Regions from separate parts of the Homo sapiens genome. Here region 1 is linked to region 2. A link means that fine-mapping ties the variant in region 2 to the expression of a gene that starts in the linked region. Tissue or cell type: nasal epithelium. Region 2 holds a variant in brackets; the other region holds the start of a gene. All regions are shown on one strand. Distances are between the middles of the regions.

Region 1 (2,610 bases), 21 kb before region 2:
ATGCACACAGTAGGTGCCCAATTCTTATTCTTCATTGACGAACCATGTAAGACCACACTAATTTGTCATCAGAAGCTCTGAAATGTTTTATGTGACCACACCAGGCCACAGGGTACAACACTGTGGCAATGAATAAGCCGGGGGAGTAACAATAGCCCTGCTTCCTGACCAGCCCTTGGAATTCCCTGGAATTCAGACTGGAATCCAGGTAAAGATCAGACTTGAAATGTAACCAGCTTGGGAAAATGTGTCAGGTCTATGTCTAGGTGCACATGATGAATGCTGCAGCCTTTCGGAGAATGCCGTTTGGCTTTTTCATGGGCTCACGGAACTATGGAGGAGAGCATGCCATAAGGAGTTCAAAGTATAGAGAGATCATGTTGTCAAAGTTCACAGTTTAGCTTAGAGTAGGCTTGGAATGTATAAGGTCTAGTGACATTTGATAAATTCACATGGCTGCCCCTAACCACAAAGCCAAGGGCATCCAATCAATCATAGAATTCACAATGACTTTTCCTGTGTCTCCTTTTAACCACCCAAAGGCAAAGAATGTCCCAACAAATCACAGTCCCAAGACCCCTGCTGTCCTTGTCCAAGAGCAACGTGCACCTCGCTGTTGTGCAATCCTATTGAGACGTGAGTGGGAACTGCTCACTGTAGGACTGCATCTGAGAACCACTGTTTGTTTTAGAGGATTTGGTACAGAGTGAAAAAGAAACACCAGGTGAATTAGATTTTTCAAATTTCCAATTCATTATTGTCTGTGACCACAGGGATTCTTGGAGGCCAAGAAGTTCAGGTAATTTGATGACCGGACACACATACCTGCAGGCTCTGCAGACCTCCATAGGCTGTAAAGAGAAGCAGGAACCCAAAGGAAACCACAAGGACGTTCCTTAGACTTCTGTCCATTGTGCTGGATGAAAAGATCAATCACCAGTGAACACGTAAATTTGTAGCTCCCTAAAAGAAACCAATTGAGGCATGGGAAAAACAATCAGTACCAAGAAGTCCCATTCTCTCTCTCATCTGAGCTAGAGGTGAAATGTTAGAGGTGTGTTAGTCATTAAGACTGTCACTCGTTAATGAACTTGGTTATCACTGACCCCATGAAGCATACGGGAGCTCTGTTACTCATTTACCTTCTCTGTGATCCACAATGTCCACTTTGTATGGGGCAAAAGATCATTACTCTTACCAGCTTCTAGTTAATTGCGCTTTTTTCCTATTAAATTCTAATAGACATGGTCCAGATGGTAAAGTGATATGTTTCACTTTTTATGTGTATATAGAATAGAACCTTCCACAGTAAGAGAAACTGTCAGAAGTTGTCAGTGGTGCAGAATGAGGACTTCAGTCTTAAAGAACAAAGCATAAATGTCAACTTCAAGACACATAGTTCAACTTCTGAAAAAGAGCTAACGTGATTGTAAGATCCTGGGGCCAAAGTCTTAGTATTGCAAAGACTGTACAGTTTCACAACACAGTACAGCAATTATTAAAAGAAAAAACAACTTACATGAGTATAGTACTTTACAATATGCAAAGAATTTCATGCATTATTTCATGTTACCAACAATAGTGCTATGCTAATGATCATTAGAAATCTTAGACCCATTATAAGACAGGAAACAGCTTCAGAAAAGTTAAATGATTTGGTATTTTGGTCTGGGGCAGTGTTGTCCAGTATGGTAGCCACTCGCCACATGTGACTATTGAGTTCTGAAATGTGGCAAGTGCAACTGATAAAATGAGTTCACAACTGCATCTCCTTTTAGTTAATTACAATTAAAATTTAACCACATGTGGCTAGAGACAACTGTATTAGACGGGGTAAGTCTGGAGCTTTAAGCAACTTACCACAAATGTCATAGCTAATAAGCAAGAAAAATTATTTTTATTCAATTATAAGTAAAACTTGATGTCTGCAGATTGTTTCCAAAGTTCTGTGAAGTCAGCCATTTCTGTCTAGATTAGATCTATAAGGCAAATCTCGCAGGTAAGTCTAGCATCCTGGCAACACTACTCAGGGAAGCTTGCCAGACCATCAGAAGATCAGGGCCAATGATAAATGGGGTAAAGTTCTTGTCACTTAATGTATTTCAGTGAAAATGAAAGTTTTATGAAAACAATAGCTTTTTATATTAACTAAACATGGACTATCATGCTTACATAGACATAAGAGCCACGCAGTCTAGCAAAGGGATTCTGAGCATGGAAACAGATGAGCTCCACGGGTTCACACCCTAATCCTGTAATTTGTTAGCTAGGTGATCTCAGGTGGGTCACTGAGTCACCGAACCTGTTTCCTCTTTAAAAAGGAGGGTTGCAAAAGTTCAAGACTTGGATAATTTTGAAAGCCCCTAGAACAGCACCCGATATATAGCAAAAATGTTAACTTCAAGATACATATATGGTTCAACTTCACCAATAAATGTTATCACCAATAAATGTTAATTGACTAAGATGATATTTTGACTTTCAGAGACAATACAAATTAGAATAATATGTAAAGAAATTAGCATAATGTGGACTTCTTCATACTAACCGTGTTATCGATCAATCAACTTGGACCTTATTTTTATTTTTTGGCAACACTTTAGTTTACTT
Region 2 (2,763 bases):
CCTGGAGATGATGGCACGGAAGGGCAGGCAGAGGGCTGCAGCCTGGCTCCTTTCCTTCAGTCCTCCTGATGAGGTTCTCGCTCTTTCTTAACTCTGGCCCTCAGCAGAAGCACCTGGAGACCTTGCTAAACTCTGCACAGCTGAGCCCCGCCCAGAATTGCAATTCCCTCCCTTGCTGCCTAATGACTCCCAGGTGCTTTCCTTCAGGCCTCCTGTTGAGGTTCTCTGTCTTAAGCTCTGTCTTAACTCTGGCCCTCAGCAGAAGCACCTGGAGACCTTGCTAAAATCTGCACAGCTGAGCCCCGCCCAGAATCGCAATTCCCTCCCTTGCTGCCTAATGACTCCCAGGTGCCGCGACGCTGCCAGCCAGGGGAACACACTGCGGGAACCCATGCCTGGCACAATCCTTCCCATCCAGGCCTCCGCCCACGTGGCAGCCCATCCCTGCAACACCTGTATCTTCCTGGACAACTGAATTCAAATGCCCCTTTGTGTTAGTTTCTTGAGGTCGCCACAACAGGAACTTCTTGTCCCCCAGCCTGGAGGCCGGGAGTCTGCACCCACGGTGTCAGCCGGGCCAGGCTCCCTCTGCAGACTCCACAGCGGGAGGGCGCCAATGCCTTGCTCTTAGCTCTGGTGTTCGGGGAAACCCTCGTTTGTAGACGCGTCACCCCAACCTCTGCCTTCGTCCTCAAGTGGTCACCTTCTCCCCGTGCTCCCCTCTCCTCCCATGAGGACATTGGTCACATGGAACTCGAGGCTCACCCTGCTCTAGTTGACCCCAGCTCAACTTGATCAGTTCTGCAAGTGAGGGCTCGTTCACAGGCACCAGGTTAGGGCTTCAACATACCTTTCCGGGGGATGCAACTCAACCCACAACCCTTTCTCCTCCGAAGGTCTGTCCATGTCCCCCACACCGGAAGGCTCCCCTTTCCCCTAACCCCCCATGTCCTTCGTGATGGGGCCCTGCTCCCTCATCCCACTGAAAGCTCCCTGACAACAGCACTCATCTTGTTCACCTCTGGGCACCCCACAGCCCTCCGCATTGCACCCTCTGCTCATAGTTAAGGCCAGTTTGTTAAGAGATGGCATCGGTGATTATGACGCCTGGCTGACTTGTGACAAGTTCTGTCTTAAGAACTTAACACAGAGCTTCACAACAGCCATTAACAGGTATGTGCCATCATTATCCCTGTCTTAGACATGAAAAAAGAGAGATGCAAAATGATTAGGTGACTTTGAGAGCCCATGGTCAATAGATGCCACAGCCAGACATGAACACAGATGGATGGGTCCTCCAGAGTGTGCCAGATATAAACGCGGTGGGGTGGGGACTCCGGACCATGTGAACGCCCCCCCCCCACCCCCACCCCCACCCCGTGCAGCCTCTGGGCAGTCCTTTGTTCTGACTTCTCAGCTTTCTACCAGGGCCAGCTGCAGAATTTAGGGGCCCAGGACAAAACACAAATGCAGGACCCCCTGTACAAAAAGCAGGAAAAAGTGCCATTATTGGCCGGGCCCAGTGGCTCACGCCTGTAATCCCAGCACTTTGGGAGACCGAGGCAGGTGGATCACGAGGTCAGGAGATAGAGACCATCCTGGCCAACACGGTGAAACCCTGTCTCTACTAAAAACACACACACACA[C/A]AAAAAAAAGCCAGGCGTGGTGGTGGGCGCCTGTAGTCCCAGCTACTGGGAAGGCTGAGGCAGGAGAATGGTGTGAACCCAGGAGGCGGAGCTGGCAGTGAGCCGAGATTGTGCCACTGCACTCTAGCCTGGGCGACAGAGCAAGACTCTGTCTCAAAAATAAATAAATAAATAAAAATTTTTTAAAAAGTGCCATTATGGTAGTAAAATATAAAGCTTTTTCCTTCCCTCTGCAGTCTCTTTCCCTTCTTTTCATTGGGTTCCTTTATTTGCCACATTGTCATTCTAAGAAGGAAAATTAAAAATTATTAGTCAACTTATTTTGTGCAATGCCAATTTCAAATGCAAATATAGGACCATTTATCTCATTTGCAAAATCACCAAAATTTCTCAATTTGCAGTTCGTAGCTTGTACATGTTTTCTTCTTATCAGAACAGTGAGGCACTACACAAAACTCCCTCAACTGTATCCACTACAGCTCCTGATCCAAGACTGGGTCTCTGGGCGTCGCTCACCGTGGTTCCCTCAGCACAGAGCCATGATGTTCTGGCCAGCACGGGCGCCTCACTCGCCCATGCAAGCCCTGCACAGCCTGCCTGTTCCGCCGGTCTCCAGCCACGCTCATCTCGCTGGGTTTTCCCAGCCTGCTCACCTCTCAGCCTCGCTACGGCTGCCCACACATTCCTCTCTCAGTCACACATTGGGGCCCCTCCAGCTGCTTCGTCCTGGTCCCAGTGGGCCACCAGGTAAAAGTGTCACACTTGTAAATGTTCAATTGATGCAAATTCACATTTAAAGTTTGTTTACTCTGTCCCTGCACAAAAGCTTTATTTTAAAGTTACACGATTAGACAGAAGTGGACCTTTGTCCTGGCTGAGGCCCTCCCATGGGTACCCACCCCCTGAATGGCTGATGCAAGACGGCAACAGTGTTGACTGAAACCAGGCAGTTTCAGGCCACAGCCAACTGGGGACACAGCAATGAGTGATGAACGGTCGGGGTCCTCTATGCCGCGCCATGAAACCTGAACTAACCAGACAAGTTTATCCAGAGCTGGACACGACCCTTTGGGGGCCATGCAGCTTTATTATTATTATTACCATTATTATTATTATT

What was found. PIP is the estimated chance that this variant, and not a neighbour inherited with it, causes the effect.
Region 1: UNC93A starts here. The variant in region 2 is fine-mapped to the expression of UNC93A in nasal epithelium (TOPMed, PIP 0.99).

Annotation. Positions count from the first base shown.
Region 1 is chr6:167,289,792-167,292,401 of GRCh38, reverse strand. It overlaps UNC93A (unc-93 homolog A), which reads right to left and starts at 1,087. Exons shown (of 8, transcript NM_018974.4): 1 at 826-1,087. The coding sequence starts at 912.
Region 2 is chr6:167,268,663-167,271,425 of GRCh38, reverse strand. It overlaps a transcript of UNC93A not described here. Among named protein-coding and RNA genes, the nearest start is that of UNC93A, 21 kb to the left of the region's middle. RefSeq lists an enhancer at 2,577-2,763. The variant C/A (reference allele first, on the strand shown) is at 1,647.